Homo sapiens: one gene and its partners. The protein of the gene in region 3 interacts with the protein of the main gene of each other region in a pairwise test. Each region holds a gene or a part of one and is shown on either strand. Other genes may lie near its edges.

Evidence for each region.
Region 1: the proteins of PRKAG1 (region 3) and TNFAIP1 interact in binary tests that used the Homo sapiens proteins (3 or more experiments, as listed by UniProt).
Region 2: the proteins of PRKAG1 (region 3) and AP1S3 interact in a two-hybrid assay, tested with the Homo sapiens proteins (one large-scale study listed by BioGRID and IntAct).
Region 4: the proteins of PRKAG1 (region 3) and CBS interact in binary tests that used the Homo sapiens proteins (3 or more experiments, as listed by UniProt).
Region 5: the proteins of PRKAG1 (region 3) and PAICS interact in a two-hybrid assay, tested with the Homo sapiens proteins (one large-scale study listed by BioGRID and IntAct).

The regions. Positions count from the first base shown.
Region 1 is NC_000017.11:28,338,278-28,342,898, reverse strand, and holds part of TNFAIP1 (BTB/POZ domain-containing adapter for CUL3-mediated RhoA degradation protein 2), read right to left. Parts: intron 3,492-4,621; 5' UTR 3,378-3,491; coding exon 3,173-3,377; intron 2,591-3,172; coding exon 2,421-2,590; intron 1,663-2,420; coding exon 1,573-1,662; intron 1,496-1,572; coding exon 1,443-1,495; intron 653-1,442; coding exon 457-652; coding exon of another isoform or gene 335-456; intron 1-334. UniProt on the Homo sapiens protein: Substrate-specific adapter of a BCR (BTB-CUL3-RBX1) E3 ubiquitin-protein ligase complex involved in regulation of cytoskeleton structure.
Region 2 is NC_000002.12:223,830,738-223,835,358, reverse strand, and holds part of AP1S3 (AP-1 complex subunit sigma-3), read left to right. Parts: intron 1-4,621. UniProt on the Homo sapiens protein: Subunit of clathrin-associated adaptor protein complex 1 that plays a role in protein sorting in the late-Golgi/trans-Golgi network (TGN) and/or endosomes.
Region 3 is NC_000012.12:49,004,883-49,009,503, reverse strand, and holds part of PRKAG1 (5'-AMP-activated protein kinase subunit gamma-1), read left to right. Parts: intron 1-114; exon of another isoform or gene 115-195; intron 196-904; exon of another isoform or gene 905-1,078; intron 1,079-3,651; coding exon 3,652-3,761; intron 3,762-3,911; exon of another isoform or gene 3,912-3,960; coding exon 3,961-4,042; intron 4,043-4,112; coding exon of another isoform or gene 4,113-4,139; coding exon 4,140-4,198; intron 4,199-4,338; coding exon 4,339-4,384; intron 4,385-4,485; coding exon 4,486-4,540; intron 4,541-4,621. UniProt on the Homo sapiens protein: AMP/ATP-binding subunit of AMP-activated protein kinase (AMPK), an energy sensor protein kinase that plays a key role in regulating cellular energy metabolism.
Region 4 is NC_000021.9:43,065,833-43,070,453, reverse strand, and holds part of CBS (cystathionine beta-synthase), read left to right. Parts: intron 1-1,838; coding exon 1,839-1,945; intron 1,946-2,049; exon of another isoform or gene 2,050-2,397; coding exon of another isoform or gene 2,398-2,676; exon of another isoform or gene 2,677-3,820; coding exon of another isoform or gene 3,821-3,929; intron 3,930-4,076; coding exon 4,077-4,211; intron 4,212-4,621. UniProt on the Homo sapiens protein: Hydro-lyase catalyzing the first step of the transsulfuration pathway, where the hydroxyl group of L-serine is displaced by L-homocysteine in a beta-replacement reaction to form L-cystathionine, the precursor of L-cysteine.
Region 5 is NC_000004.12:56,455,706-56,460,326, forward strand, and holds part of PAICS (bifunctional phosphoribosylaminoimidazole carboxylase/phosphoribosylaminoimidazole succinocarboxamide synthetase), read left to right. Parts: intron 1-3,666; coding exon 3,667-3,833; 3' UTR 3,834-4,621. UniProt on the Homo sapiens protein: Bifunctional phosphoribosylaminoimidazole carboxylase and phosphoribosylaminoimidazole succinocarboxamide synthetase catalyzing two reactions of the de novo purine biosynthetic pathway.

The DNA of each region.
Region 1 (4,621 bases), on a different chromosome or scaffold from region 3:
GAAAGCCCAAGCTGTTTCTACACCACACTGCTGCTCCAAAGAGTTGTATCATTTTCATATCTCGTTAAATTCATACTATCATCCCCATGTCTGCAAATGAGGAACCTGAGGCCCAGATGGCTTAAGTGGCTTATCCAAAGTCAGAAAACTGGCAAGTGGTGTGAGCCAGCGTTCAAACCTGAATTGGGCCAACTTCAAAGACCCAGTCCTTCCCACTGTACTAGGCTACTTCCTGGTGGTCAACGGCCCCTGCCCTGCGCTGTCAGGAACAAAGCAGTTCCCGTCCATTCCCCACACCCCTTGTTCTGGCCTTGTCCTTGCCCAGCACCATTACCGTGTTTGGAAAAAAGAGCCAAGTCCATGCCCCTTTTGCTCCGTGCTGGTCACAGCCCGACCACGTCCCCCGCACAGTGGGTGTGTGTCCTCCCCTACCCAGGCAGGGGCAATCCCCCACACCTTGGTCTGCTTCTTCTCCGTGGCATACACGATGGAGGTACAGCACACCTCTGCCAGCTTACGGCCCTGGCCATAAAAGGACCAGCAGCAGATCTCGTCACCAATGACATCCTTGATGAAGAGCACGCGGCCGTTGAAGCGCAGGGAGAGCTTGTCAAACAGCTCGATGTTTTTCAGCAGGTGGTCGTCAGAGTTGCTGAAAAAAACATGAGGGCCAAGCGGCTGGGAGTGAGGTTCCAGTCCAAGGGAGGGTGCTAGACAAGTGGGGCCCTCCCCTCCCTCCCTTCCCCCATCCTGTCCTGCCGAAATGAAAGCAAGATGCCAGGGGGCCAGGAGAGAAAGGATCATAGGGTACCCTCTGGGTTGGGGGGCCTGTGAGGAAAAGGAACTCAGTTGGTTTTAAGTCAAAGTAGGGACAGCTGAGGAAGGAGGTCTCCCCTCACTAACCCTGGAAGGAAGGAGACAAGGCTGCTATGTCAGTGGGAGGCATTCCTTCCCTTACTGTGGGGGTGACAGTGGCAATATGCCTGGCCACAGGGAATCATAGGGAGGGTTTGGGACTCTGAACCTGCAGCCACCTGCGTCTACCTAACTGTGGCCTATGGAGAGGACATGGCCTGGAGGGTGTGGGGAGGGAATCGGCCCAGTGTGAACTGCACAGGCTGGCTTGGGGGACTCCCAGCTCACCGGCCTCCTAGCATCCCCTCCACCCGGTAGGATGACACGTGTGAAAACACCTGCCATGCTGCCTTCGTGATACACGTTGAGGGCGCATTTCACCTTCAATCATTTATATCCCAGCCAGGGCACCCTGCTGAGTTCCAAAGGCCTCTGTCCCAATTTCCCTTCTACTTTCTGTTTTTCCCCAACTTGGCACAGCCAGTTCCAAGACCCAGGCCCAGACCCACGCCGACCGTGCTGGGAGTACAGGCAGTACTCCTTGGGTCTGCTGCCCAGTGTCTGTTGAGCCCTGTGACGCACCCTACCTGGTGTAGGAATACTTGTTGTTGCTTCTGTTGTACAGCAGCTTCACCACGGGCTGTGAAGGAGTTCAGAGTGAGGGGCCAGGCCAGGGGACTGGCATCCCCGGCCCGCACCCCTCAGAGGTCCTGGTACCTTGGTGGAGGATTCGATGAGCCGCTCCTCCTCCTTTAGGGATGTGATGATGGGGATGTTGCACACAGGCTGGTAGGAGTCCTTCTTGTCCTGTGCGACACAGAACAGAGAACCCTCTTTAGGATCTTCTGCTTCCCAGGCTTATCGAGGTATACCTCTGGAGCCCCTCTGCCATGGCCACCCGCTGCTTGGTGAGGAAGTGTCAGATACAGATCATGAGGCCCCTGACAATAGAAACTGCCAGCTGGAAAGCAGACCCCCAGTTAGAAAACCCAAGATCCAGGCCGGGTGCGGTAGCTCACACCTGCAATCCCAGCACTTTGGGAGGCTGAGGCAGGCAGATCACTTGAGCCCAGCAGTTCGAGACTAGCCTGGAAAACATGGTGAAACCTCATCTCTACAAAAAATACAAAGATTAGCTGGGTGCCATGGCGCATGCTGGCATTCCCAGCTACTCTGAAGGCCAAATCACGAGAATCACTTGAACCCAGGAGGCAGAAGTTGCAGTGAGCTGACATCGCACCACTGCACTCCAGCCTGGGTGACAGGAGTGAAACCCTGTCTCAAAAAACAAAAACAAAAACAGAAACAAAAGCAAAAACAGAAAAACCCCCTAAAATCCGGGTAGCAAAGCATAGAAACCAGAAGCAGGGCCTACTCACGCTGCCAAGTGTGAACACCTGGCTGCCAGGTTGGTGGGCCTGGGTGGCATCTCACTTGTCTCATTAGGTTTGCACTCATCAACCACGCCTCCCACACAACCTGCCAGGAACCAGAGTCCTCCATCCCACAAGAAGGGGGCAACTCCTGACCTCATCTGCCCGCCCTGCTCCGCCCCACCCATGTACCTGCAGGGCACTCTGGCACATATTCACCAGCCCCTGGATGAGGTAATACTTTGCTTCAGCCATCAATTCCTTGATTTCTTGCCGGTTCTGAGGGAGGGTGATGGTGTCATCTCGGAGGTAATTCAAAATGGTGCCAAAGTGCTTTCCACAACGGTCTATGAGGATCCAGCCTAGGGGTGCAGAAGGCCCTACAGGGTTAGTTTGCCGCCAGGTACCTCCGAGGCAGGCAAAGGCCACCTGACAAGCTGGCGGCAGGTGGCAGGGAAGGGGGTCCACGAGCACAAAGCCCTTACGCAGGGTGACAGAGGCGGGGATGGAGGTTCTAGCACTCAGGCCCATGGCTGCTCTTCACCCTTCCTCTCTGAAACCCAGAACTGGCACATCCCACGGGGGATACAGCCCTCCAGGCTGTAGAAGCCACAGGGGCCTAGGCTCAGGGTACCAGGCCCAGCCCAACACAGAAACCACCAGCCACTGCCGGCCTTCTGCCCGCTGCCCAGTCTTAAGGTGACGGCTCCTATGAGAATCTTGTCCTATTTAAATATTTTAAAAGTATGGCTCTTCTTCCTGGAAAATGCATAAACACAGCATTCCATATACAATTTCACAGAATTCTGAAGCTCTACTAGGGACTCCAGGTGAAGACACCCTACATAAAGTGAAGAGGAAAAGTGACTGAATTCTAGATCTGGTCATTTCCTTGGGAACTCCTCCTGCCCTCCCCACCCCGAGCGGCAGCCCCAGTGCCTCACCTTCTTTGTCGGTCAGCACCTCCATGCGCCCACTGAACATGGCCTTGAGCATGGTGTCGTGGCGGGTCAGGGCCCGCACAGTGGTGTAGTACAGAGAGCCGCCCACGTTGAGCTGGACATACTTGTTGCCCAACCCTCCTCCCTTGAAGCCACTGAGCTTGGGCTTGGCCCCTGAGGCTGGGCACAGGCAGGTGTCCCCCGACATCTCCCGCTGCAGGTAGATCACCACACGGCAGGAGGTAGGCTTGGAAGGCTCCGCCGTGGTGGAAAGGGTCACGAGTGAGTGGCCAGTGGAGGCCAGAGCCTCATAATCTCAGTGCTGTACATGGGAGAGGGAAGAGAAGACACGAACCAGCTGAGACAGCCCAGGAGGAGACAATAGCAGAAACACGACCGTACTCATTCTCTCCCTGACAAGCCCAAGCACTGCTCCCTGGCAGAGGCTAAGTCCCTGCCATTTTGCTTTCTTTTTTTTTTTTTTTTTTCTTAGAGACAGGGTCTCACTCTGTCACCCAGGCTGGAGTGCAGTGGTGCCATCTCGGCTCACTGCAGCCTTTGCCTCCCAGGCTCAAGTGATCCTCCCACCTCAGCCTCCTGAGTAGCTGGGACCACAGGTGCACACCACCACACCCAGCTAATTTTTTTTTTTTTTTTTTTTGGTAGAGACAGGGTTTTACCATGCTGCCCAGGCTGGTCTCGAATTCCTGAGCGCAGGCGATCCGCCCACCTCAGTCTCCCAAAGTGCTGGGATTATAAGTATGAATCACCGCGTCTGGCCTCCCTGCCATTTTTACTATAGCAGGAACCAGGGCTGGAGGCAGTCTCCCAGACTCCTGCCCTGGTCACCTCATCAGCCTCCCTGAGACTCAGCTCCACTCAGGGCAGCGAGGAAGACAAGCAAACCCATGGAACCAGTTAGAGAGGGCCAGAGGAACAGATCACCCTAGAGATCTACCAGTCAGATTCCAGTTACTTTCTTGTCAAGGTTCCCAGGATCCCAGACTTCCAACCAAACCTACTGGGAATCCAGCCAGTCTAGGAGTTTCCCAGGAGCCAGAGGGACAGGATGCACTTCCTTTCTAAAGATTCCAGCCTCCAGAGCAGTCTGTGCCAGTGTTTATTTTGAGCACCACCGAGAGTCTGGCTTCAGGAAGGAAAGTAAAAGCAGCTTCAGGAGAGAATGCAGTAAGCCAGGGTCGGGGGTGCCGGCCAGTGTTCTTGGTGCAGGTTACCTGGGCTTCGGCTGGGGCTTCCTGACCTTCCCCTTTCTTGGCACCAGCCTTGTCCCAAGTTCCTGAAATTGTCACCATTTTTCAGGGAAGAACAGCTATAGGATGGCTGTTTTCCTTTCTTTTTCCTGAGAGGGAGCCCAGCCCTACTCTCCTCTTCCCTCCCAATAAGAATGGGAGAAGAAAGGACTAGAAAAGATCAGAGGATAAATCTAAAAAC
Region 2 (4,621 bases), on a different chromosome or scaffold from region 3:
ATTGGGCATTTGTGATAAGACAAGCAGGATGTCCTGCTCTTTATATTCACGATCTCATTCAATCCTTGCAACAAACAATTGAGGTTAAATCTGTTATGCTCATTGCATTTTAGCTACTCTGAGCTATTCTAGCAGTATGGCCTTGGACAATTCCTTGACCTCTCTGTCTCAGTTTGCCCATTTGAAAAATGGAGATAATATCTCCTAACTCATAAGGCAGAGGTTCTGAAAGTGTGACCTGGGTACCCCCAGCAGTCCCCAAGACTTTTACTGGAGGTCTGCAAGGTCAAAACTATTTTCATAATAATACTAAGATATTAATTTTCCCATTTCATTCTCATTCTCACAAGACTACAGTGAAGTTTTCTTGTGTCTACATAAGCTGAGATAGTACAACAGATTGAACACAGATGCAGATAGGAAAGTCCAACTGTCTTTGATAAGCCCAGACATTAAGGAGATTTGCAAAATTGTAAAACAGTGCCATGCTTTTCACTAATTTTTTTTTTGCTTTGGAAAAATATTGTTATTGGTCATAAAAATGTTATTTATGTTTAATGTGTAATAGGTTTACTATTGTTTTTTCTTTTTATTTATTTATTTTTGAGACAGGGTCTCTGTGTCGCCCAAGCTGAGTGCAGTGGTGTGATCACAGCTCACAGCAGCCTCAACCTCCTAGGCTCCAGCAACCCTCCTACCTCAGCTTCTTGAGTAGCTGGGACTGTAGGCATGTCCCACCATGCCCAGCTATTTATTTATTTATTTATTTTGAGACAAGGCTTGTTCTATCACCCAGAGTAGAGTGCAGTAGCATGAACATGGCTTACTGCAGCCTCAACCCAGTGGACTCAAGGCATCCTCCTACCTCAGCCTTCCATGTAGCTGGGACCACAGGTGTGTGCCATCATGCCCAGGTAATTTTTTGATTTTTGTATAAATGAGGTCTTACTTTGTTGCCTAGGCTGGTCTTGAACTCCTGAACTCATGTAATATTCCCACCTTGTCCTCCCAAAGTGCTGAGATTATAGGCATGAACAATTGGGCCCAGTGGAATTTTTTACTTTTTGTAGAAATGAAGCCTACCTATGTTGCCCAAGTCGTATTATTTTAAAATATGTTAATATCTATTTTTTCATTTTAATTTCAAATACAATAAATATCAGTGGATATAACCCACATAAACAAAAAGGTCTTTGGGATTGGCAGGCGGATCACCTGAAGTCAGGAATTTGAGACCAGCCTGATCAACATGGAGAAACACTGTCTCTACTAAAAATACAAAATTAGCTGGGTGTGGTGGCGCATGCCTATAATCCCAGCTACTTGGGAGGCTGAGGCAGGAGAATCGCTTGAACCCGTGAGGTGGAGGTTGTGGTGAGCCAAGATCGTGCCATTGCACTCCAGCCTGGGCAACAAGAACAAAACTCCATCTCAAATAAATAAATAAATAAATAAATAAATAAATAAATAAATAAAAAGAGTGTAAAGGCATCCAAAAAGTTTCATAATCACTGTCCCGGAGTTTAACAGGTACCATAAGTGAATGCGTGTGAAGGCGCTTCAAACAGCTTTGCCATTGTAAATGCTCAGTAACCATCACCTCTCCTCTGTTATTACCTTCAAGTTGTAAGAAAGAATTGGCGGCCCTCGCTAGTGCCCAGCTGCTCTGAGACCTTTGTTGAGGCTCACTGTGTAACTCCCTGTCTTTCCTGCTGCTTCATTCCTGACTTTTGCTGACTTTTATGCTAGGAAACTGGTAGATGCTTACTGGCAGATCTAGGCACCTAGTACTTTACACACAGAAAATGGTTCTTGATTCCATGGTGCCAGTGACCCTGGTTTCTGGCACAGAGATTTCATATCTGGTGCATGTTGGGACTGTGTTTGTATCTGGATCACACTGTTTGAAGCAACTGTGTACTCCATCTCACCTTTTAGAAATCTCTACCTTGGAAAACAGTGTTAGGGCTATTGCACTTCAGGAATCCCACGAGCTGAGCCCAGTGTGTTTAAAAAGGCTTATGGGGCAGAATGTACTGTTGAATGGTTGGCAATGAAGGAGGATTATGTTGTTTATGTATGTATGTATGTATGTATGTATGTATGTATGTATGTATTTTGCCTTTAACAAGATAGCTGTGGGGATGTATACAGTGACATTTGAAATGCTTTGGGGGTACTTTTAATAAAAGCACAAGTGGACTTTGATGTATGTAGTCCATGTGCTTCTGAAAAGTTGAGGTGACACAAAACCACATTGTGAACAAAACAGTAGAGCCACCCATTGAAAGAAACTCAAATGTTGATCCCTTTGGAAACATGAATAACCGTCTTTTTGTGTTGCAAATTCCGTTCTCATAATGTATGTTATTTATGTAAAGTAGGATAGATTTATGCTAAAAAAAAATCAAGGATTTTTTTTGGGTGTACGATTTAAAATCTGACTTGAGAGAATTTACCAAACAGAACTGGAAAGCCATTTCTTATTCAGAAGATATTTAAGTTTGAAATAGTAGGAGTACACCCTTCTCCTAAAAAAAAAAAAAAAAAAGAAAAAAGAAAAAAAATTCCTTTGTTCATTTTAATCTCAGGGAGTTGTTGAGGGTGAGGGTGGAAAAACCGAACTATGAACCTGTAGGTCCTGCCACGCCCCCTTCCCCTTCTGTATCAATTTTATGTTCTGAAGCTTGAATGAATTGTAATAAGCATGTAATGATTTTGGCAATTTAAGTTCCAGTTTGAGGGTGAAGCGGTCTATTACACTAATGAGTGCTTTCCTCCTCGGAGACTTGGTCTAGGCTGCTGGCCAGCAGTTAGTGTAAGATCGAGGGCTTTGGGATCAGGGGAGAAATGACCCTTTGTGGTGTTCAGTTGTCCCAAGAGGGCTCTCCTCCACTGGCCCTTCCCACAGGTCTCCCAAAAACACCAGTGAGACTTGTATTTACTCCTCACCAGGATTGTTACTACCGAGTTTCTATCACTCGTTTTGTTTGTTTGTTTGTTTGTGGTGAGTATTGTCAGCTGCTGATAACTTTTGTGTGGCATTTTGCCAACAACAGCTGTAAGGAAGCAGCACACTGTGTATTTGCTGAACGGTGTTGTCAATGTCTGCCCTTTTGGGTCCCGTGAATTATTTCATTTTAAGACATAATGATAAAATTACTCCCCTTTCCAACACACACACACACACACACACACACACACACACACACACACACACACAGAGAGAAAACTCCTTTAATAATCCCCAGAATAAGTCCTTTTTTTGATTTTTTTTTTTTTGAGACGGAGTCTTACTCTGTCTCCCAGGCTGGAGTGCAGTGGCACGATCTCTGCTCACTGCAAGCGCTGCCTCCCGGGTTCACGCCATTCTCCTGCCTCAGCCTCCTGAGTAGCTGGGACTACAGGCTCCCGCCACCATGCCCAGCTAATTTTTTTGTATTTTTAATGGAGATGGGGTTTCACCGTGTTAGCCAGGATGGTCTTGATCTCCTGACCTCGTGATCTGCCCGCCTCAGCCTCCCAAAGTGCTGGGATTACAGGCATGAGCCACCGTGCCCGGCCAACAGAACAAGTACTTCTTGATGTCTTCATGAATTGTCCTTTTGATATTGTTTTGTTGTTACGATAGCCAGTGTTTCTCCCAGAGACCTGAAACTTCACTGTGGTTCTGTGGTTCATTTCTTCCCTGGGGCCTGTCTTTTTCTCTCTCAGAGTCTCCCTTTCTGGTATACCTAGTTTTCCCCGATACTTTCTCTGTTTAACCTGAAGTATCCAGGAAAACTCCCTTTAAACCATTTGAAGCTCCCCCATAATCTATGACATGAAAGAATGTACACAAATGTCAGAGGCAAATGCTCCTAAATTCTCTCAGTGGCATATGAAACTATCCAGCCAGCACCCTGACTAAGGAAATGTATTTCTTGACCGGGCACGGTGGCTCACGCCTGTAATCTTAACACTTTGGGAGGCCAAGGTGTGTGGATTGCTTGAGTCTGGAAGTTCGAGACCAGCCCAGGCAACATGGCGAAACCCCATCTCTAGAAAAAATACAGAAAGTATTAGCTGGGCGTGGTAGTGCACCCATGTAGTCCCAGCTATTTGAGAGGCTGAGATGAGAGGATCACCTGAGCCCAGGAAGTCAAGGCTGCAGTGAGCCATGATTGTGCCACTGCACTCCAGCCTTGGTGACAGAGTGAGATCCTATCTCCAAAAGAGAAAGGGGCCAGGGTTGGAGGCTCATGCCAGCACTTTGGGAGGCTGAGGAGGGAGGATTGCTTGAGCCCAGGAGTTTGAGACCAGTGAGACTCAGTCTCTATTAAAAAGAAAAAAAAATGTATTTCTTGTATCGCTGCTAGCAATAAGGTAAATTAAAAATCTTAACAATGAAAAGGGGATACTGAAAATCATTCAAGTTAGAAATAGAATGTTATCGACAATCATGAGGAAACTGGCCTCTGCCAACATCCCTCTTCTAAAAACTTTCCTACAGGCATCTCTGGGCTCTGAAATTCCTGGCTCTCAGTAGCTTCTGAAACTTTAGTCTTTCAGTGCGATGGGGCATGGACCTAGTACAGTCAGTTAAGAATAAGTGCACAAGAGATTCTGTATTTAATGTCCT
Region 3 (4,621 bases):
CAAAAATTTAAACCCAGCTGGAGGTTTCAAAAATCAACATGAGGAAATTTCCCAGAAAGGAGAGTTAAAAATCAACAAAGTAGAAAATAGGAGAGAAGGTGCAGTGGCTCATACCTGTAATCCCAGCACTTTGGGAGACTGAGGCGGGAGGCCAGGAGTTCAAGACCAGCTCAGCAACACAGCAAGACCCTGTCTCTACAAAAAAATAAAAATTAGCCAGGCATAGTGGCATACACTTGTAGTCCCAGCTACTCAGGAGGCTGAGATAGGAGAATTGCTTGAGCCCAGAAGGTCAAGGCTGCAGGTGAGCCATGATCTCGCCATTGTACTCCAGCCTGGGTAACAGAATGAAAGCCTGTCTCTTTAAAAAAAAAAAAAAAAAAGGAGAGGAAAGATTCCAACAACCCACAAAACAAACAAACATTTAAAGGATCAGTCTAGGAGGTCCAGTATCTAAATAGGAGTCATAGAAAAAGAAAAATGGCAACACAGAGGGAAGGAAATAATTGAGGAACTAATTCAAGAACATTTATTGGAACTTGAGGACATTAGTTTTCATATTGAAAGGACCCATCGAATATTCAGCACAATGGATGAAAGTGACCCACCCAAAGCACAGTCATCCTGAGATTTCAGAACACTGGAAACAGAGATCCTATGAGTTTTCAGAGAGAGGAAAAAAAAGTCACATACAAAAAGTCAGAATTGCCTTGGACTCTCAACAACACCAGCAGCTAGCAGGCAATGGAGCAATGCCTTCAACATTCTGCAGGAAAACACATTCCAAGCTTTCCTGCAGATTCTCTATTCAGCCGAATTATAAATCCAAGGATGAGGGTAGAATAAAGATATCTACAGGCTGCAAGGTCTCAAAAACACATACCTCCCATGCACCCTTTCTCAGGAAGCTACTGGAAGATGTGTTCCACCAAAATAAGGGAGTAATCAAAAAAGATAAAAACGCGATATAGGAGCACCAGTAGAGGACAGACGTGAAAGGGGTACCCAGGATGGTGATGAAGAAAGATCCCAGGATGACAGCAGTGCACACCAGACAAACCAGCCCAGATTTGAGCAGGTCAGAAGGCTCCAGGGAGATTTCTTTGGGTAGTTTAAATTTTGATAGACTGTCTAATGCTTTTGAACCTCTTAAAAGGAGATTTAAATAGTTGGTGAAGCATTTGGGGGTTGGATTAGTTATAAGAATTATACATAGAAAATTAAACAAAAGGACAAGACATTAACTCCAGGTAAAACAAAGTTGTGAAGGAAGAAAAAAAAATCAGAGTTTACTATTTGGCTTATCTCTGAATAATAAATATTCAGTCAAAATGATTTAAATACTGGCCGGGTGCAGTGGCTCATTCCTGTAATCTCAGCACTTTGGGAGGCCAAAGCGGGCAGATCACATGAGGTCAGGAGTTCGAGATCAGCCTGGCCAATGTGGTGAAACCCTGTCTCTACTAAAATACAAAATTTAGCCGGGCATGGTGGCGGGCACCTGTAACCCCAGCTACTTGCGAGGCTGAGGCAGGAGAATCGCTTGAACCTGGAAGGCTGAGGTTGTAGTAACCTGAGATCGTGCCACTGCACTTCAGCCTGGGTGACAGAGCAAGACTCCCTCTCAAAAAAAAAAAAAAAAAAGATTGAAATACGGATATAACCAACATTATGGTTTAGCTCCTGGAATAATGAGGAGAATGGGAAGTACGTGTTTGTGGTGGAGTCCTAGTAGGAGAGAGAACTAGAAATTCTCATCTTCTTTGGTAGATAGATGATAAATAATGCCCCAAAATGAAAAAAAAAATGGAAACTAGCAATACAAGCATGTTATTTAAGGACATAGAATTAAGTACCAAAATAATCAACTAAGGTAGATAGATGTTCTCATCTCTGGGGAAGGGTAGTACAGGGAGGTGGGTTGCAAGGAGTGCAATTTTTTCTTAACAAAATTTGTAAAACTGTTGGACTGATTTAACTGTGTGTCTATATAACTTTGGTTAAAAAAATAAATATTAAAAACCAAATTGATTAAAGACTTAAGAGCATGAAGTTTGGAAACAGATCTGGGTTTGTTTGAGTCTTTCTTGCCACTTATTAATGGTGTGACCTTGAGCAGTTTATTTAACTACACCTATTTTCTCATCTGAAACATGAGGACATTACTTACACATTTGTTGTAAGGATTAAATTATGTAATTTTTTTTTTTTTTTTTTGAGACGGAGTCTCACTCTGTCGCCCAGGCTGGAGTGCAGAGGCACAATCTCGTCTCACTGCAACCTCCACCTCCTGGGTTCAAGCAATTCTCCTGCCTCAGCCCCCTGAGTAGCTGGGACTACAGGCACGTGCCACCACGCCTGGCTAATTTTTATATTTTTTTAGTAGAGACGGGGTTTCGCCATGTTGGCCAGGCTGGTCTCAAACTTCTGACCTCAGGTGATCCACCCACCTTGGCCTCCCAAAGTCCTGGGTTACAGGTGTGAGCCACCACGCCCAGCCAATGTAATTTATTTATTTATTTATTTATTTTTTTGACACGGAGTTTCACTCTTGTTGCCCAGGCTGGAGTGCAATGTTGCGATCTCGGCTCATCGCAACCTCTGCCTCCCGGGTTCAAGCAATTCTCCTGCCTCAGCCTCCCGAGTAGCTGGGATTACAGGCATGCGCCACCATGCCCGGCTAATTTTGTATTTTTAATAGAGACAGGGTTTATCCATGTTGGTCAGGCTGGTCTTGAACTCCCGACCTCAGGTGATCCTCCCACCTTGGCCTCCCAAAGTTCTGGGATTACAGGCATGAGCCACCACGCCCAGCCTCAATGTAATATTTTTAAGTGCACGTAGTATAGTATGTAGCACATTCAAGCTATTATTTTGGGAGATTACTTCCCTAGTTTAGAGCAAGCAATTAAAATCACAGGAATAGAAAAAGGTAAACTAGCCAGGATCTCCCATTTGTCTAGAGTAGGTGGGATGATTTCTGATTTACAGGGTGATCCCAGAATGGACTATCAGGGTGTTTTGAGCCAGGTTGATTGAGCACTGGGCTCCAACTTATTGTTAATGAGAAATGGCCCAACTTGGACCATGACTTTCCCATTTGCAGGTCTTAGAATAATTTTTTTTTTAATTGAGACAGGGGTTCGCTGTGTTGCCCAGGCTGGCCTCGAGCTCCTGGGTTCAAGTGATCCTCTGCCTCAACTTCCTGAGTAGCTGGGATTACAGGTGCTTGCCACCATCCCCAGCACAGTCTTGGAAGAATTTTAAGAAGCTTACTTCATTGAAAAAAGAGGAAAGTGAAAATGTGCTAAGTATATGAAAGGGAAAGCTTGGATTAAAGATGAGAAACATTTTTAGACTATAACATGTTAAAGAGAGATACTATAGGCTTTATGTTTTAGTCAACTTCTTTTACCTATAGGGACCAATAGATAAAGTCTTAACCTGGAGACAGGGGTTGGATGAAATGGTTTCTAAGAGGTTTATCCAGGTTTTGTGGAAACAATAGGAACAAGACAGATAAAATAAGGGGTCTTATTAAAAAATAATGCTCTAAATATTTGAGATACTAGAACACTATTTTGTTTTCTGTCTCTTTTGATTGGGAGTTTTTATGTGGAAGGAAGCTACTAACTATCCCACCCTATGCAGAGACCCCAGAATCCAACAATAGCGTGTATACTTCCTTCATGAAGTCTCATCGCTGCTATGACCTGATTCCCACAAGCTCCAAATTGGTTGTATTTGATACGTCCCTGCAGGTGGGTGAAATCCTCTTTTCCCTTCCCCCTTTGGAGCCTGTGGTTTAATACCTCTCATCCTATCTCATCCTAAGGGTAATATCCTTATCCTTCTGTGAAGTTAGTCTCATGTTTTACCCAACATGCCCAAACACTGTTCTTTTTTTACAGTCCTGCCCCTGTGGATTTGCCTTTATGATTATTACTGTCTTGGCTACAGGTGAAGAAAGCTTTTTTTGCTTTGGTGACTAACGGTGTACGAGCTGCCCCTTTATGGGATAGTAAGAAGCAAAGTTTTGTGGGTAAGCAAAAGTTTCTGGAACACAATATTATTGGCATCTTGTGCTGGGCAGGGAGACAAGCTTCAGGCAGTGCTGAGGGCTCTGTCTTGTCCTCTAGGCATGCTGACCATCACTGATTTCATCAATATCCTGCACCGCTACTATAAATCAGCCTTGGTAAGGAACCTTAACCCAATGACCAAAATCACTTTCCCTGCCCTAAATCCCTCATTCTCATTTCTTTTTCTCCAAGCAAGCCACGAGGGCTTAAGGAAGCAGAGAGATCAGGTCTCAAATTCTGTTGCTTCTGCTTTCAGGTACAGATCTATGAGCTAGAAGAACACAAGATAGAAACTTGGAGAGGTATGTAGAGAATTGGGGTTATAAAAGGATAAAGGGATGGCGGGTTTCTGGGAAACACTTTTCCATGGTGGTATTTTGTGACCCATCCCTTTTCCCTTCAGAGGTGTATCTCCAGGACTCCTTTAAACCGCTTGTCTGCATTTCTCCTAATGCCAGGTGAGTTCCAGTTACCCATCTGTCCAAAAAGCGGAAGAGATTTTGTCATCAGCCTAGCTAATGCCCTAGACACCCAGGGAA
Region 4 (4,621 bases), on a different chromosome or scaffold from region 3:
AGACAAACCCAAGAGAGCAGTGGGTGAGAGGCCCGGTGAGGTCGGGAGTGGCTGCTGGAGGGTGGAGTGGGCAGGGAAGACAGGCCCGATTCCTGAGGGCTCCGTGAGCTCCTAACTCTAGGGCATGAGAAGGAGACGATGCCCTCCAGGTTGTAAATGGCGTTGCACCTGCACCTCACATACTGGCCTCATTCATCCTCCGAAGACACCCCCATCCTGAGACGCAGAGCCGACGCCGCTTGTCTCCAGTCGGAGGGCCCCTGAGAATAGTGGCGTTGCGGGGAGGTGCTGCAGAGGTGGGTCAGGAGTTGGAGGTTCATTCTAGGACAGTGGCGTGTCCTCCCAGGAGCCTCTTGGGCTGTGGAAGTGGGAGTCCTTGAGATAAGGGGCTCCAGGGCTATCCCTGCAAGTCACATCCTTTTTCTTGCTAAGCGCTCTGGGCCTGGCCCTGATCACCTCTGCAAACTTCTCAGGTAACTTCACAGCCACCGAGGCCCAGTGCTGAGTCAGCACACCTGCTGCAGGGAGGCGGGACTCTTCCCGCCTGGCTGGCCAGATGCCCGAACTGAATTAATGAACTAATCCCCGGCGCTGTCACCCTGGGGCTTGGCTTTCCACCTGGCCCTGGCTCTCTACACCTGCCAAGCCTGGTTCCCTTCTGCCGAGAACTGCTTCTGAGGGAACCTCCCTGGCCCCTGTACAGTTTGGGGACCTGGCAGGACTGCCTTCTGCTCCCCGGGAAGGGTGCGATTGGATTCCAGCTGCTCTTGTTGGCGCCTGTTTTGGCCTTCAGGGTAGCTCTCCCTGCAAATGTGGCACTCCCTCCATGGCACAGGACCTCTGGGAGCTGGGTTCACCCCAGGTCTAAGGGTCGCCTCCTGGGGGGCAGGACCCAAGGACCCTGGCTGTTCAGCAGGTGACTGTGCTGAAGAGGGGGCCCAGGGTTAGCCACGGGGTGTCATCGGAGCTGCAAGGCCCAGGGAGGGGTTGCGGGTCTGGAGACCGCTGTAAGCCATGCGTGTTCCCAGATGAGTATGTGGTGAGCTTGGTGCAGATAGATAGGGGGTGTCATCAGCATCTCCCTGGGGGAGGATGGCAGGGGCATGAGGGCCATTTAGGAAACCACCTGGACCAGGGTTTGAGGGTTTACACAGCCAGATGCTGCAGGGCAGGGCATCACGAGCCTGGCCGACAGCGCCTCTGCCGGGGCTCTGAGTCTGCCACGTGCCTGACATTTTCTGTGCAGGGCTAGACATCCCGCCTGCGCTTTGCAGCCATTGTCCCTGGTCTAAGGAGTCTCTGCCCTGACACTTTTTTGCTTCCTATGGTCACATGCTGAGAGATGAAAGGAAATGTCATCTCCAGTAAAGCCTTTCTGAAAAGGTGGACCTAAACCTTTGTTTTGGAGTCAGTATTTGCTTATTTTAACTTTTTTATTTGGAAATAATTTACTACTCACAATAAGTGGCAAAAATAATAGATCCTTTGTACCCTTCTCCCAGCTTCCCACTAACAACATCTGCCACGACTGTAGGTTCATTTTCAAACCTGGGAAGCTGGCATTGGTGCAAATAAACCACAGGCATGATTTGCTTTTTATAGATTTGTATGTCTAAGCATGTGTGTGTATGTGTGTTTCAGGCGTGTGTGTGGGATGTGTGTTAGGTGTATCTGTGTACAGATTTGTGTAACCACCACCCAGATAAAGCCAGTTCTTTTTTTTTTTTTTTTTTTTTTTTTCCAGTTCTTCGAGTGTTGATTTGTGTAAGACAATGTCTGCCAGGGCTGGTACTATTTTTTTTTTTTTTCCTGAATAATTGTGGACTCCTCTGTTTCAGGGCAAAATCTCCAAAAATCTTGCCAGATATTCTGAAGAAAATCGGGGACACCCCTATGGTCAGAATCAACAAGATTGGGAAGAAGTTCGGCCTGAAGTGTGAGCTCTGTGAGTGCCCTGGCTTTGGAGAGGGGCTTCCTCCATCTACACTGGGCTCCGTGGGCCTGGGGGGTCCTGGGGGGTCCTGGGATGGATCCCTTAGGCAAGGCCCTGGGATCAGAAAACTCGCTGGTTAATGAGTGGCCAAGAACATATCAGCTTAAGTTTGGGAAAAACACACAACAGGGCATTGTGTCAGAGGGTGACCAAAGTGACTCCCCAGCAGATGGACCAGGGAACGAACAGGTGACCTTTGAACTGAGGCCGGAGTGGAAGCAGCGAGGGTGTGAAGGGCCGGGTGAGGGTCAAAGGCAGAAGCAAGCAGGTGGGGAGGGTTAGCGTCATGCCTGCTAAGGAGCAGTGGACGGGTCCTAGCACGTGCTGTGAGCCACCCGCTGTCCAGGGAGCGGTTACCTCTGTCTTGCCAGCTTCGTGGGGACAGATAGTTCAGCTCATCATTTATGAGACAGAGAATGGGAATTTGGAGGGTCTGTGGCTGGCCTCGTCCTGGGTGCGCAGGGGGTCACCTGAGGTGTGGTCTGAGGCCTCCGGGGAAGGGCATTTCTTTGCAGGACGCAGTTTCCAGGCTCAAGAACGTGGAGGGAATTCCTAAGGGTCGCTCTTCACCAAGAGCGCAGAGCCCTGGTAGACCTCAGCATCGTCACAGAGAAAGCTGTGGGTGCAGAGGCCTTGGGGACAAGGCGGGGACGGAATTTCGTATTTCAGATGACCAAGGCCAAGTGAGTTCGGAGGGAGGCAGGAAGGGTGCCGCGGAGAACCCCGCGACAGGGCCAGATGGAGGGGGTGGAGTTCGAGTGGGAAGGAGAGGGAACCAGTAACATGGCTTGGGACTTTTTCATCCTGAGATGCTCTAATGTCCCAGCCGGGGGACCTGTGAGAGCTGGGGCAGGCGCTGGGGGAAGGAAGTCAGGGGTCGGTGCGTTGGGAACCGATCGCCGATTCACAGGAGGGGCCTCGTGGGAGCCTGGCCCTCCTCTGCCCCCCTCTAGGGAAGGAGATCTCGGAGCTGCAGCAGAGCAGCCCCCTTCACAGAGACCCCCAAGGCAGCAGGGCCGGCTCTGTGCTCATTTGTCAGACAATAGGGACCCTTAACTCGTACGCAGCACGCGTGGCTGGCTCACTGTGCTCCGTACAGGATGACGTCTAAACTTGGTGGTTGCCCTTGAAGTAGGTTTTGGAATGCCCGTTTTACAGACAGACACACCGAGGGTCAGGTTGGTCACGTGGCTTGCCGGAGGCCACCAGCTCTGATTTCTGCTTCGGAGCTGGCCCCCAGGCGCTAGTGAGAATGATCTAACTGAGGGTTTCACAGTATGGGACCCAGAGGGGTCCGAGAATGCAGGCCTGTAGAGGGCCAGACCCCGAGAGTCCTCCCCACCACACACAGCGCCTCGTCCTGGTTCTAGGGGCAACACCTGTCTGGTGGTTGCTTTCAGAAATTTTGAGGTGCTGCAGGCTGGTCCCAGGTCCCTCAAATCACATTTCATGCAGCCCAGTCTCTCGCTCTTAAAAACTAAATATTTTTAAGAGCTGGAGAGGGAGAGAGGACTTGCAGTAAGGAAGGAAGTGCAAGTGAAGGCCTTGGCCTTGTGCGGGAACCGCGCAGGGAGCCCTTCCCCGGGCAGGTGACGCCCCACAGGGGGAGGAGGACAATGGGAGGCTGTAGGGAGAGTATGCGAGTCCCCATCCGATGGGGAAGCCAGTGCTGTGGCTTCAGGACATCAAGCTGCTTTGGCAGGGGCCGCTGGGTATGGCTGGGCATAGGGGCGTAGGGGACCCAAATCCAGGCGCCTGCCCGCCACAAGCCCAGCTCGTGGGTGGGGGGACGGGGTTTTCTGCGGCGCCCCCCAGTGAGGGCTGCTTATGCCTCTCTGGTTCCCACAGAGTTGCTCAGCGCCCTGCAGGACCGGTAGGATGGGCTGCAGGGGGAGAAGCTCTGATAGGCTAGTGCCCAGGTGCAGGTGTAGGGGAGGTGAGTGGAGAGGTGGCAATTTTTCAGAACCCACAGACCCCCAAGCCCGTCCCCCACCCTGGGGTGTATCAGGTAATGGGGGGGTGAGCAGGAATCAATGGGGGGGTGGTCAGGGGGTCCCCTCTGTGATTCATCTCTGCCTCCCAGTGGCCAAGTGTGAGTTCTTCAACGCGGGCGGGAGCGTGAAGGACCGCATCAGCCTGCGGATGATTGAGGATGCTGAGCGCGACGGGACGCTGAAGCCCGGGGACACGATTATCGAGCCGACATCCGGGAACACCGGTGGGTGCCAGGCCCAGAGGGGGTGGCCAGGGCTGGCTGTCCCCTACCCATGCCGAGCCTGCCGGGACCCGGGGGGGATGGCTGAGCTGCAGCCGCATGTGCTGGCCCGCCTGGCCGCCTGCTCCCTGGCATCTTGCACCCGCTGCCGGCCTGTGTCCCAACCTAGCTTCCTTTGACCAGCATTCGGGGCCAGTGCCGATGCTCTCGGGGCGATGGCACCTGGCAGTGCCTGGCACACAAGACGAGCACCCGGAGTCTGCTCTTCCTGTGCCTGTGTACCCGGCTGGGCCTGGAGGAACCAGATCTCCTGTCCTGCGCCGCTGCCTCCTCCTCCTTGACGTGTACCTTTTATTTCTGCCTCTGGCAGCCTCTCTCCCCCTGCACTTGAAGGCAGAAGCAGCCATGTTGGG
Region 5 (4,621 bases), on a different chromosome or scaffold from region 3:
ATTACTCCACTGTCTCCTAGCATCCACAGTTGAGGACTCCATTGCTTTTCCACCAGTCTGATTCTAGGTTTCTTATGAATTTTGTTTCTCTCTGGAATCTTTCAGGATCTTTTGTCTGTTTTCATTGTTCTTAAATTTTACACAGATGTGATGTGCTGAGTCTGTTTTCATTATGGACTTTCGGTGAGCTCTTTTAATCTGAAATTCTGATTTCTTAGTCCCCATTTTCCTTGAATTATTTAATTTTCATACCCCTCCATATTCTCTCTTCTCATTTTTGAATTTGAATAAATTTGGGCTTCCCTTGATTTCTATTCTACTTGTTTGTCTTGTTGGTATACTTTCTGGAATATTTCCTAAATTTTACATTCCAACCCTTCTATTGAGTTTTTCTTTTTTTTCTTGAGACGGAGTCGGGCTCTCTTGCCCAGGCTGGAGTGCAATGGCGCAATCTCAGCTTACTGCAGCCTCCGCCTCCCAGGTTCAAGCGGTTCTCGTGCCTCAACCTCCTGAGTACCTGGGATTATAGGTATGCACCACCACGCCTGGCTAATTTTTGTATTTTTAGTGGAGATGTGGTTTCACCATGTTGGCCAGGCTGGTCTCGAACTCTTGACCTCAGGTGATCTGCCTGCCCTGGCCTCCCAAAGTGCTGAGGTTATGGGCGTCAGCCACTGTGCCCGGCCTTCATTTTGGATACAGGTGTTTTTTGTTTGTTTTGACACAGGGTCTTGCTCTGTTGCCCAGGTGGGAGCACAGTGGCATGATCATATCTCACTGGACCCTTGAACTCCCCGGGCTCATGTGATCCGCCCACCTCAAACTCCCAAGTAGCTATGACTACAGGCCCACACCATCACACCTGGTTAATTTTTTTACTTTTTGTAGAGATGGGCACTCCGTATGTTGTCCAGGCTTGTCCTGAACTCCTGGACTCAAGCAATCTTCCCACCTCAGCCTCCCAAAGTGTTGGGATTGGGTAGGAACCACTGCCTCTGGGGTTTTTTTTTTTTTTTTTACACAATGTTTTTATATTTCTTTTGGTTTTTGTTTTCTGGGTTTTTGTTGTTGTTGTTGTTTGTGTTTGTATGTTTTTAAATTTCCAAAAGCTCTTTTTTGTTCTCTGGAGATGATTATAGTCTGTTGCATATAGTTACTTTCTTCAGCTGTCTGGTAATCCTTGGCTGTTTGCGCTTTTAAGAGTGGAATACTATAAAAAACAATTGGAAACTTCAAGTGGGTGGTCCGTGTCAAAATTGGGCTTCACTGTGGGGTGTATCTGGTAGGGATTGTTCTTCAAACAACCCCTCACATTAGTGTCTAGGTATTTTCTTAAGTGTTGACCAGAATTACTCAGAGAACAAAAGTTGTCTGTGCCTGGCGTCCCCTAGTTCAAAGACGCCAAGACTGAAGTCTGTTTTACCTTCAGAAAAATTAAAGGCCTGGCTTGGTGGCTCATGCCTATAATCCCAACACTTTGGGAGGCAGAGATTGGTGGATTGCCTGAGCTCAGCCTAGGCAACCTGGCGAAACCCCATCTCTACCATAAATACAAAAATTAGCTAGGCATGGTGGCACACGCCTGTGGTCCCAGCTACTTGGGAAGCCAAGGTGGGATGATCACTGGAGCCTGGGAAGTTGAGGCAGCAGTGAGCCGTGATTGCACCACTGCACTCCGGATGACAGAGCGAGACCGTGTCTCAGAAAAAAATAATGTTTAAAAAGAAAAAAATTGCTACAGTGCTTTAAAGAGGCAGTTACTCAGGTAGATGGAGTGGGGAAGGAGATTTGAGGACCTAGCTTCTTCTTAGACTTCGAGTCAGTCATCTTCTTCTTAGTCCCTATTCCCTTCCAAAGGTATCTGGTGCCACTAATTTAGTCAGTCACCCTTTGGGGGAGTTCTGTAATGTCAGTCATGTTGCTTCTCATCTTTCCCTGCTTTCAGTTTAGAATTAAGTTTTTTTTTTTTTTTTTTTTTAAATGGAGTTTCGCTCCTGTTGCCCAGGCTAGAATGCAATGGCGCAACCTCCGCCTCCCAGGTTCAAGCGATTCTCCTGCCTCAGCCTCCCAAGTAGCTGAAATCACAGGCATGCACCACCATGCCAGCTAATTTTGATTAAGTTTTCTTGGTCTGCTAACTTAGCTACCACTGTGTTTGCCTTTCAGTTGCCAAAATGTTACTGCTGTTATCTGGCCTTGTGTGTTCATGCCTATTTCCTTTACTGTTTTTATAGGCTCTGAGAATTAAATTTTGTGCCTAAGCTATCTTTAACAAGATGTGATTATACAAATGTCTCAAGCTAAAAATCAGCGGCTACAAATAAAGCTGTAACCAAATTTATGCCAGAGGAATTGTATAGATACCCATGGAGCTTACAAAAGGGGAGCATGATAAGCAAAAAATTGGCAGTTTTTATAGTAGTGTTGTTTCAGGAGTGACAAATAATCTGGAAGACTTGTACATAATGATCACTAGAATTGGGGATAATCTTTTGAGGAGTAGTTTTACAGTAACCTGTGTAAAATCCTGAAGACCGCCCATATTTCTCATCTCTGATGTCATGCTCACTAGATAACTTTTTTTTTTTTTTCTGCAATTTAAGCTATTCTTTTACCAGAAAGGGAGTCCTGGGCAGGAGGCACAGGTTATTTCAAATATTAGAGTGGAGCACTCTACCTAGCGTGCTAACAATAGTGGTTGACATTCTTGGAGCACATACTGTGTACCAGGCAATGCTCTAAGCACTTTATCTATGTTATTAACTCATTGAAGTGTCACATCAGGTAGCTACTAGTTAAAATTCCCTTCTCACAGAAGAGGAGAATAAATTAACGTGAAGTAACTTGACCAATACCACATATTAAGGGGTGGAGCTCCATAAAATAACGTATTAATACAAATTAGTAAATTGGCCTTGTGATTTGTATTTGACTCTGTTCTTGTGGATAATGGGAGTCAAAGAGCCTGATGAATTCCAAGAATATCGGGAAAATCGAGCTTTTGGAACTATAGCAAACACTAGACATAATAGTACCCCTGATTCTAGCAAACACTAGACATAATAGTACCACCTCAAGACACTCTGCCTGAGCAGACATGTGGCCCCTAGGATGTTACTTTTTTATTCTGCTGTCTTGGATCTTATTAATATTTATTTATAACTTGACATTTCCTAAAATTATTCTACGGATTTGACTTTTACTGCTCAAAAATATTAAAATAGTTCAAATGCAGATAGAAAGATTAGCTAGAAAACTGTCAAAACAACATAGCTCAAGTTTGTCTAAGAACAGGTACTTTTGTACTCTTACCTTGACCCTTATTTTGCTTCAGTTGTTCTTCGCCAGGGATTGAAAGGGATAGTGTATGTGAACAGAAGTTTCAAAAAGATAAGTTTCTTTGTAAGTGAGTTCTATAAGAAGGGTGATAGATGATATATATAAAATATCTCTTCATGGCAGGTAATACTGACTGCTTTTCCTCTTGTAATCACTTTACCACTCCGGTATTAAAGACAGTTGTACAGATTCTACTTTAGATTAGAATAATGCAGTAGCTTTTTATTTTCTGTGGCAGGACTGCTCTGAGTATAAAATTTTTTGTAAGGTTGTATTTTCATTACTAATTGAGCTCAATTTTCTGTCTTTTCCTTGCTGAACCAATAGGTCTTGGCTGTTCAACCGTACTTTCTCCAGAAGGATCAGCTCAATTTGCTGCTCAGATATTTGGGTTAAGCAACCATTTGGTATGGAGCAAACTGCGAGCAAGCATTTTGAACACATGGATTTCCTTGAAGCAGGCTGACAAGAAAATCAGAGAATGTAATTTATAAGAAAGAATGCCATTGAATTTTTTAGGGGAAAAACTACAAATTTCTAATTTAGCTGAAGGAAAATCAAGCAAGATGAAAAGGTAATTTTAAATTAGAGAACACAAATAAAATGTATTAGTGAATAAATGCTTCTCTAGATCCATATTAATAAACATGAGCATCTAACCCCTCCTTTCTTAGGCTAGACACCAAGATATTTCAGCCAGCCTTTATCATTCCTCTTACTTTATCCTTTTTCCTTAAGTATTGGTGGTCACTACTATTGAGTTTCTTCCTTAACACTGATTAAATGATCTTAACTCCCTCAGCTAAAACTGGCATTACTGACTCCCAGCTATATTTCTCCAGACTTGCATTTTTTTTTTTTTTTTTGAGACAGGGTCTCACTGTCGCCCAGGCTGGAGTGCAGTGGCGTGATCTCAGTTCACTGCTGCTTTCCCTCCTGGGCTCAAGCAGTTCTCCCACCTCAGCCTCTCGACTAACAGGGACTATAATCTTGCAGCACCATGCCGAGCTAATTTTATTTTTTGTAGAGATGAGCTCTCACTATGTCACCCAGGTTCGTCTCAAACTCCTGAACCCTAGTAATTCTCCTATCTCAGCCTCCCAAAGTGCTAGGGTTACAGACATGAGCCACTGTGCCTGTCTAGACTTGTACTTTCAACTGTCCATTTCTCCCTGTCTGTCCCATGGGCACTCATGAAAAAACAGAATGCTCCCAACTTTATTCATCTTCCAAGCCTGTAGCTCTTGGTATACTCACTGTTGCAAGTCAGAAGCTTGATTTC